2 separate regions of the Homo sapiens genome follow, and region 2 is linked to region 1. The links come from fine-mapping of genetic effects on gene expression. A gene starts in region 1. The other region holds a variant in brackets. All regions are shown on one strand. Distances are between the middles of the regions.

What was found.
Region 2: its variant is fine-mapped to the expression of MYO10 in thyroid (GTEx, PIP above 0.99).

What each region holds. Positions count from the first base shown.
Region 1 is chr5:16,933,353-16,938,728 of GRCh38, forward strand. It overlaps MYO10 (myosin X), which reads right to left and starts at 2,936. Exons shown (of 41, transcript NM_012334.3): 1 at 2,436-2,936. The coding sequence starts at 2,456.
Region 2 is chr5:17,022,755-17,028,070 of GRCh38, forward strand. No RefSeq gene overlaps it. Among named protein-coding and RNA genes, the nearest start is that of MYO10, 89 kb to the left of the region's middle. The variant A/G (reference allele first, on the strand shown) is at 2,018.

The sequences.
Region 1 (5,376 bases):
GTCTAGCTAGAAATAGCAGTTGCGAATCACAAGCAGCTCCCATTTCCTTATTATTTGGCCATTCATACACAAAGCTAAACAGGCAACATCTCATTCAGTAATTTTTCCCCAATTGTTAGCACTGGCTTTAAACTGTTGTCCAACAAGCAACAAGTCATTTACCCCTAAGCCACAATGGGAAAAGTTAGCAAAGACAGAATTCTACTTAGTGATAAGGAGGCCAAACAATTTAGCTGTCCTTGGGGAATATATCACTTCCACACTCGCTGTTTCTATTCTAACAGGACATTAATTACAGCATTTTCTTCACTGGACAATTTAACAAAAGGATGCTCCATTACAAGACATGAGAGAGAGAAAGGGGAGCTGGGATCTATGTTAAGAGTATGTCTACAATTAATACCTCACTATTTAACCTCTCTGACTGGCCCTGCTTCCTTCCCACTCAAAGTGATTAGATTTAAGGGTGGAACTTTCACGGCTGATTAGAAGTTAATATTGTAATACACATACATCACAAGATTAAAAGTATAACCTTAAAATAAGCGAAAAGTTCCCAGAAATACCAAAGTCACCAGCAGCAAAGGAAAAAGGCTCTGGATTCGTGAACAAGCTCTTCAAAGCTGGGCAAGGGACTTACTCATATCTTTGGGTTAAGATTCTGTCTACAAAATGAAGAGGAGAAAGTAGAAGATCACTAATGGCCAACTGCAAAATAATATTGATCACAGAAATAAAATCCAACAACCAGGCCCCTTACACTGAACTAAGGTATCCAGTGCAAGATGAAAAGAGTACTTTGAAAAGTCAAAGTCTCACCGGGTAACAGGAGATCAGGACGCTGTAGCGCGTTATCCTGATGTTCCCCCCACTTGCACTAGGGGGCAGAGTTCTCCCCAAGGGGGAGCCACGGACCCCTGTGGTGCTCAGACAGGCTACAGGAGGAGTGAGATCCGTGCAAACTGAATACAAATTTCTATATTTTCATCAGATTTTCTAAGGGACCCAGAACACAAAAACAACAAAGTTAAGAATCATTGCCCTAGGGGCAGGGCCTCCGTTTTCTTACAGATGCAAGCAATTAAACACCGGAACTCACTGTAGCCCGAGGGTCCTTTACCACTGGACAACGTGCAACTCTTGCAGAAAGTTCTGGTGCCTTTCGACAAGCATGAAAACAAAAGTCTATGGACTAGAAAATGCGAGCGTCTCACAATTATATATATTTCACTTTTTTTAAGAAAAGGAAAAATATGTATTGATGGATAATTCCTTTCTAGTCTTCCTTCCACAATGAATGTGGGTATCACATCTGAAACACCACTTTTAAAAACTAGATATGACTACTAAACAAGAATGCATTTATCACTTTGGCCAGTATGAATAGCTGTCTGAGAATACAGTCAGTGAGCATGCAGAAAGCAGAATGACTTGAAATATTATATCCAATTAAATCAGATAAACCAAGTCGGCTAACACAGAGGCAAGCCCTCATCAATCTGATTTGCTGGAAGACTCCAAAGCGGTTCTGCACTCAGAAAACATTCCCTGGCTTTCAACGAAAATCACATCAGACTCTCTCAAGTCAACTAAGTTTACTTTGAGCCACTTCAAACCTCAAACTTAAACAGAATTTATTAAATAAACACAACCAAGAAAGGAAAGGGAGCCAAGAAACCACAGTAAGTCTCGATCCCAAAGGGGGAAAAAGGGTTCTCAAGTTAAGTTTCAGTGTCCCACCCTCAACGACCCTAAAGAGGGCATCCGTTTCATCTATTAAAATAGCCACTGTTTGCCCTAAACGAATTTTCTTTACATTCGAATTCAAAATCTGCATGGACACTCTACACAAATACATGATCATTTGATCCCAGGGTCTGGAGTTATCCCAAGCCTTAAAAGAGCACTTCTCGGCGAGCAAAGTAACCGATTAAACCCTTGCCTCTCCTTCTCACACTTCATTAAGCCGTCTCCTCTGGAAGTGTTTGAACCCCTGCACAGGAAGCCCGCACGTTTTGCAAAGGAAATACCAGACAAGACCTTTCTTGGAGAAAGGCAGGTCCCCGCTGAACATTTTATTGGGCTTCCTGCACCCGGGCAGTCGAGCGGGCGGATCGCCCCGCCCGCGCCCCGGCGCGCGCCGCCTCACCTGGCGCGGGTGTCCCAGGGCGCCCCGAGAGCCAGCCACCCACGCAAACGGAAACGCACCTTCGCTACCTCCCGGAGCAAAATGCGAGCGCGGGACAGGACGAAACAAAACCTGCCCGGGCTTACTCATCAGAGACTCCGCGGGGGGATGGGGGGTGATTTCAGGAGACTCCCAGAAAGTTGCGCCTTCCAGGGCTTAGGAAAAAGTACCCAGGGCGCGCGGCGTGGTGGGCAGACGCCTCTCTCCCTGGGCTCCGGAGGCCAGGTCGGACTGGGAGCGCACTTACCTCGGTGAAGAAGTTATCCATTGTTCCAGCGCAGTCCCGGACTCGCCGAGTGCCGCTCCGACTCGCGGAAGTCAGCGCCGCCGCGGGTCCGGGGAAACCATGCGTGTCACGGCGCCACTCCCGAGGACGCGCGCCCGCGGGGCTCCCCTGCTGCCATCGCCCGGTCCCTTCTTGTCCTTCTCACCTTTTGTTCGCCCAAACCCAAGTCCCTAACTCGCCCGTCCCGACGGCAGCCTTTGTCTCTTCTTCCTCCAAGTTCCTCACTACTGGGCGCAGCGCTCGCAAGCGGAGAACAGCTGGTGGCACATTCTTCCCCCAGGCGGGGGAAGGCGGCGGGGTGCTGGCGAGCGCGGCCCCCTCCCTCTGCGCTCCGGCCGGGGGCCCTCGGGGCGGGCAGGAGGACAGCGGGCCGCAAAGTGAGCAGGAGCCGCGATCCCCGCGCGAGCGCTTGGAGGTGAGCAGTCCCGCGCCGCGGCTCAGCCAGCTCTCGCCCGCGGGACTACAGCCCAGCGACCTCGCCCCGCCCTCCCGCAGCCGGCCCCGCCCTCCCGCAGCCGGCCCCGCCCTCCCGCTCGCGGCCCCGCCCCCAGGAGCTTGGCCCTCCGCCAACCACACCGTCTGGCCCCGCCCGGGCGGAGCGCCCCGCCCCCTTCCCGACCAGGCCCCGCCCACTCTAAGCCCGAAGCAGCCGCAGGCTCGTTAGCGGACCCGGGAGGGGGCCGCGTGTTTCCCCAGGTCTTCCCACGTAGGCGTGGGGAGGGGATTTAACTCTTCCCTCTGCAGAGAGAGACTAAACAATCACTTAGAGGGGAGGAGAAGGGACTGGGGGCTTCTGTGCCTTTCATGTTTAGCAGACCCGGGAACCGGCTCAACACGGATCTCATTAATGCAGCCCGGTAGACTAGCAATCTCGGGAAGGAAGCGCGGTCAGCGGAGCTGCCGGGGCTGCGGGGCCAGATCAAAGCGGAAGACGGAGGCTAATCAGAATTTCTGGAAGCTGCATTCCCGTGTTGACTTTCTGTCCTGCAGTCGGGTTTGCTTAAGACGTTTGCGTAACAGCGGGGAAATGTAGTTTTGAAACTGGAAGGGGACGTGGCCAATATCACCTTTAAAAATGTAACCCTTTTCTAGACCTCAAGGAAGCAGAGATGGCAGATGGCACTGAGATGGACGAATGATCAAACCCACCTGGCACTGAGTCCCGTTTCCCCTAGGGCAGTTCTTTTAACTTTATGCTGTGCGAGGGTCACCTGGGAACCTTGTTAGAACGCAGGCTGGAACAATCTGCTTTCCAGGTGCCCCTCAGGTGCTACCTGGTCCTGTGCTGAACGAAAGCTTGTAACAAGTAGAGAAATTAAGAGTAAACGTTTGTAGCAATTTAATAATGCCACGACATCCAAGCACATGATCAGTGGACTCTTTGAACCGAGTATAAACCAGTTTGGGTGTTGTCAGACTCACGTGGTGAGTCACACCTGGCGCCGCAGTGTATTGGTACCTGGCCGACTGGGAACAAAAATGGCTGGTTCTTCAGCACAAAAGATTTGAGATGCTCTCTCCAGGGAATTTGCCAACTGCTACTCAACCTTTAAAACTCAGCTCACAAAGTCACACCTTCCAGGGGAAGGAACCCTTCCCAAAGATGCTACTCCACTCACCCCACCCAAGCTCCCCGTAACCACTGGGCTAGATGCCCACTCTAGGATTTATTCCTAAGACTGTTGGGGAAGGACTGTGCTTTAAGATGAGTATCCCCAGGCTGTCTCACAGCATGAATGAATGAATGAAACATCCTTCTGTAATCCTTATGGGGAAAGTCAAGCATGTTTGTAACTTATCCCAGTCCAGTTCTTCACCATTAATATCATTGCTCCCACCTCACTTCCCTTTAGAAAGAGTCAAGGTGTAAATTAGTTAATGATATTGTGCAATGTTGTTCTGTTTCACAGGTTTACACGCTTAAGGCGCTGAGCCATTAAAGCTTGTGTCCAAGGTCGCAAGGAAAGTGAAGATGGAGTCAGGATAAATACCAACAATCCCAGTGCTTAGTCAAATGGGTCCTGCAACCACTGGTGTTCAGATACTGGAGCAGAACAATTACAGTCATTATGGTATTAATCTGCACACAACATCTCTGCCAGAGAAATTACCAGGGAGATTGTTGAAGTGAGTGTGTGGGTGTGACGTGGTTCCCAGCATCAGCCCAGCCACTGATACGTTGGGCAACCTCGCCATGTCATTTCAAAAGTCACTTTCCATATCGGCTCATCAGTTATAACAAATGTACCACACTAATGCAACATGTTAATAATAGGGGCAAGTGAGGGTGAGGGGCTGGGAGGGGTCTATGGACACTCTCTGTACTTTCTGGCCAATTTTTATGTAAGCCTAAAACTGTTTTTTTAAAGTCTACTAATCTTTTAAAGGTGATTTTCCTGCCAATTATGAAGATATCGTTAATAATTGCCCCCAATTTGACTCACGTAAAGAATGGTGAGCCAGATCCAATATATAAAGTTTAGATTTTACTGAATCATTTTATTTCTTCAAAAAGCTTACATCATCAGTTAACAGGGTAAGAAAGTTAAAAAAAAAAACTTACATCAATGTTTTATCAATGTTGATCCCTAGATCACCTTATCAGTTGCTAAAAAGAAAAAAAAACTGACTCCAAATCTCTGTGGCAAATTGATTTCCTAAGAATTTGCATTTTTTATTTCTTTACCTGTGGATTATATTGAAAGAATTTGCATTTTAATAAGCACCCCGATAACCAGTTCAGAGCTTGGGAATCGCCACTTTATCAGAATTCATCAGCTTTTCTATATATCCCCATATTCTCAAAAAGGTGTAAGATAAGCTGTGGCAGCGAAACTCTTACTTGCTGAACAGCAAAATGCATGTTCTAAATAAGATATCTAACCCTCAAGTATCTGGGGTT
Region 2 (5,316 bases), 89 kb after region 1:
ACAGTGAAACCTCATCTCTACAGAAAATACAAAAATTAGGCCGGTTGCAGTGGCTCACGCCTGTAAACCCAACACCTTGGGAGGCCGAGGCTGCCAGATCGCGAGGTCAGGAGATCAAGACCATCCTGGCCAACACTGTGAAACCCTGTCTCTACTAAAATACAAAATATTAGTCAGTCGTGGTGGTGCACACGTGTAGTCCCAGCTACTTGGGAGGCTGAGGCAGGGGAATCGCCTGAACCTGGGAGGCAGAGATTGCAGTGAGCCGAGATTGTGCCACTGCATTCCAGCCTGGCTGGTGACAGAGCAAAACTCTGTCTCAAAAAAAAAAAAAAAAAAAAAAGGCAAAAATAGCCAGCATGGCGGTGTGTCCCAGCTACTCACCCGGAAGGCTGAGATGGGAGGATCACTTGAGCCTGGGAGATTGAGGCTGCAGTGAGTCGTGATTGCCCCACGTGACAGAGTGAGACCGTCTCAAAAAAAGAAAAAATTCACGTATCATAAAATTAACCTACTTGAAGTGTATAGTTTCATGTTTTTAATATATTCATAGGCCTGTGCAGCTAGCAACACAATCCACGTCTAGAACATTTGTGTCCCTTCCCTAAAAACCCTGTGCCCGTTTGTAGTCACCTCCCATTCCTGCCTTGGACTATCTCATCTTTGTAAATATTTTCCCCAAACATCTTAGTTTTTTAAACTTACTTTTATTAAGCGTAGTAAACAGTGTACAAAGTATATTGTAGTACATTGTAAACACTAGTGAGGGAACACAGGGCCATGCTACATAATTTACACAGATCATTCACTTACCAAATAGTAATGGAATGACTGTTACGTGCCAGACATTGTTCTGAGGCTTAGCATATAGCTATGAACCAAATAGACACAAACTACTGCCCCTGTAGAACACACATTCTAGTCAGGGGGGAGGGGACAGCTAATACATAAGTTAAATATAACAGCATATAATATGTTACATGGTGGCCAGGCACAGTGGCTCATGCCTGTAATCCCAGCACTTTGGGAGGCCGAGGCGGGAGGATCACTTGAGGTCAGGAGTTCGAGACCAGCCTGGCCAACATGGTGAAACCACATCTCTATAAAGATAAAAAAATTAGGCTGGGCGCAGTGGCTCACACCTGTAATCCCAGCACTTTGGGAGGCCGAGGCGGGAGGATCACGAGATCAGGAGATCGAGACCATCCTGGCTAACACGGTGAAACCCCATCTCTACTAAACAAAATACAAAAAATTAGCTGGGCGTGGTGGCGGGTGCCTGTAGTCCCAGCTACTCAGGAGGCTGAGGAGAATGGTGTGAACCCGGGAGGCGGAGCATGCAGTGAGGCGAGATCACGCCACTGCACTCCAGCCTAGGTGACAGAGCAAGATTCTGTCTCAAGAAAAAAAAAAAAAAAAAAAGGCCAGGCATGGTGCTTCAGGCTTGTAATCCCAGCACTTTGGGAGGCCAAGGCGGGCAGATCACGAGGTCAGTTCAAGACCAGCCTGACCAACGTGGCGAAAACTGTCTCTACTAAAAATACAAAAATTAGCCAGACATGGTGGCGGGCGCCTGTAATCCCAGCTACTCGGGAGGCTGAGGCAGGAGAATTGCTTGAACCTGGGAGGCGGAGGTTGCAGTGAGCCAAGATCGTGCCATTGCACTCCAGCTGGGTGACAGAGCGAGACTCTGTCTCAAAAAAAAAAAAAAAAATTACATGGTGATAAGCGCTATAGAAAAAAAATTAATTAGGGAAGGGGAGTGATGAGTGTTTTCATTATTGTGAATATATACTGGTATGAAAAATTTATTTGAAAGAAGTTATGTTGGACATTTTCAAAGAGCAATATTAAAAGAGGCTTAAGAGATGGTATTTTGGCCTGGAAATGAGAGCACTTAAATTCAGCCACCTGTGCAGCACTATGAGATCCTGGAAGGGGCAATGTGTGCAGAGAATAAAGAAGGAATTGCAAAACGGAGAAACACTTAGTGTGCACCGGAGTTCGGCTATCAGCC[A/G]AACAAGGCTGACAGTGTTTACAAGGCTGGGAGCCTTGGTGCTCCCAGCCTGAAGCTTGGCTGGACCTGGAGGGAGAGCTCCTTTAAGTGTCCCCGAAAGGCCTGAGCACAGGCTGGCTGCGATGTTCACTCTGCTCACATTCCTAGGCCAATGCTGAGTCCTTGGTCTTCCCTGGTTAATTTGAAGAGGAGCACTCTCTTAAACTCAGGAGCTCAGAAAGGAGCTGGTGAGAGAGAACCTGGGAACTTTCTGCCCCAGGCCTGGAGTCTCTGTTCTAGGCCTTATTTATTCATTCTATGATGAGTCATCACTGTTGATGGCTTCTGGGGCTCAGCAGTGAAAGAGAGACAAAGACGCTGACATGATAATTTACTGGGAGAAACACTTTCTTTTTCATTTTTTTTTTTTTTTTAAAGAGATGGGGTCTCACTATGTTGACCAGGCTGGTCTTGAACTCCTAGCCTCAGGCGATCTTTCTGCCTCAGCCTCACAAAATGCTAGAATTAACAGTTGTGAGCCACTGTGCCTGGGTCTGGAGAAACACTTTAAAAGTAATTTCAATAAAGTATGGTGACCTGCTATATAGCACAGTGGTTCGGGTCCCCGACTTAGGAGCGGGATGACGTGGCTCTGCGTTACTGCTCTGTAACTTTTAGCAACTCCATTTCTTTGTGCCTCAATTCCCTTACTTATAAAATGGGGATGATAATAATGATATCTATGCCATGGGAGAAGAACAGTGCCCTACATAGTGAATGCTAAATAACTACCATAGACGTTTTCTCTAGTTACAGAAAAGAAGGCTGAGTTTGCTTAAAAAGTGGCCTCAGGGCACTATTCACAATAGCAAAGACTTGGAACCAACCCAAATGTCCGTCAATGATAGACTGGATTAAGAAAATGTGGCACATATACACCATGGAATACTATGCAGCCAGAAAAAAAAGATGAGTTCATGTCCTTTGTAGGGACATGGATGAGGCTGGAAACCCATCATTCTGAGCAAACTATCTCAAGGACAGAAAACCAAACACCACATGTTCTCACTCATAGATGGGAATTGAACAATGAGAACACTTGGACACAGGGTGGGGAACATCACACGCCGGGGCCTGTCATGGGGTTGGGGGAGGGGAGGGGAGAGGGATAGCACTAGGAGATATACCTAATGTAAATGACGAGTTAATGGGTGCAGTACACCAACATGGCACATGTATACTTATGTAACAAACCTGCACGTTGTGCACATGTACCCTACAACTTAAAGTATAATAATAAAAATAAAAAAAATTTAAAAAGTAGCCTCAGGGAAATGAAAAATCCACACCCACTGCTACCTGTATCCCCCTGGAAGATTCCAGCACAAAGATGTGGGCCAATAAAATTTCCTAGCATTTGGCTTATCCCAGATCAGCCCACGTGCTTGGGAGTGGAGTACATTTACCTTTTTTCCCAATTCAACCTAAAGGAGAAGGTTTAGGGTGGGGGAAGTACAGAGAGGGGCTTTGAATTTCTTCACCATATAGGTCAGTATTCTCACACTGTTGGTTCCTTTTCCTGATTATTCAATAGGCTTAACAGTCAGGCTGTGAACCCACCTCCATAGGCAGGTGAGATCAGTGCAATATCAGATAAGTAGAGCCTTATGTTTCTCCTGAGAGCAATGAGATTTGGTGTTTTCCTCACCCCCACCTCTTCAGCAAATGCCCCTTTGATGCTTTCCCCAGAAGCTTCTACCATAGGACAAGGCAGGGCTTCAAGTTCTTTCCAAGGACACCCTTGATTCTAGACTAGGAACAAGCCCCCAACATCATTTCCATTTTACATTACCTTTATTTAATCTGTCCAACTTAAGCACAAGGTGAAATTAAATGACAAACGTTGGTTTATAGAATCACCCCGAATCATACAGCACTGGCAATGAAAAACAAGAGAGCCATATGAATTATCCCCCATTACCCAGCGAACCCCTTTAATCCCCAGTGAAATTAAAGAATCCTAAGTAAATGTGCTTTTATCTTGTTGCCACAGAGAAATTAAAAATCAGTAGAAAGAAGAGAAAGAGAAAGTGAGAAAGAAAAAGGAAAAAAAGGAGGAACGCAGTTTCTCTTTTCCATTTGGAAATTAAATTCCAAAGCCCTCCCTCCTCATTTGTTTGTTCGTTTGTTTTGTTTTGTTTTCTTGTTTTTTGAGACAGAGTCTCACTCTCTCACCCAGGCTGGAGTGCAGTGGCATGATCTTGGCTCACTGTAACCTCCACCTCCCGGGTTCAAGTGATTCTCCTGCCTCAGCCTCCCAAGTAGCTGGGATTATAGCTGGGGTTACAGGCACCTGCCGCCACCCCCAGCTACTTTTTGTATTTGAAATAGAGATGGGGTTTTGCCAGGTTGGCCAGGCTGGTCTCAAACTCCTGACCTCCAGTGATCCACCTGTCTTGGCCTCCCGAAGTGTTGGGATTACAGGCGTGAGCCACCATGCCCTAGCCTCATTTGTTTTTAAAATTGCACTATTATCATTCCCATTTAAGAATTCATTAATGGGGCTTTGAAGACTTCCCGAATGGACCGAGCTTCCAGGGTTAGGATGACATCTCAGGAGAGCTCACTCAGCCTGTGACCAGGGAGCTGCCTGTTTCCTCTTGGTCACTTTCAATGCAGTTTTGGGTAACAGCTGTGGCTCAAGTTTGTGGTGTACAATTATCCTGATCAGTGAAAAGGAGGGTTTCAGCACACATAGTTCTTCTTTAGTTATATAAATCATTATTCGATGAATAGTAGAGACAATTAACTACTCTCTAATTTGTCCTACTTTGACTTTATAAAAGTAATCATTAAAATGATATTTTACTAGCACAAATGTATGTTAAAGTTGCAGATTTAGGAGTATATATTCAGGGCAACTTGAATCTATGTTCCCAGGTAAAAGAATGTTTTAAAAACATTTCACGTGGGCCACGGTGGCTCATGCCTGTAATCCCAGCACTTTGGGAGGCCGAGGTGGGCAGATCACTTAAGATCAAGAGTTCCAGACCATCCTGGCCAACGTGGCGAAATCTCATCTCTACTAAAAATACAAAAATTAGCCAGGCATGGTGGCACACACCTGTAGTCCCAGCTACTCGGGAGGCTCAGGCAGGAGAATAGCTTGAACCTGGGAGGTGGGGGTTGCAGTGAGCCGAGATCGTACCATTGCACTCCAGCCTGGGCAAAAGAGCGAGACTTTGTCTCAAAAACAAACAAACCAAAAAAAAAAATTTTTTTTCAGATGTCTTTATCCCTGGGATGCAAGGTTGGTTCAA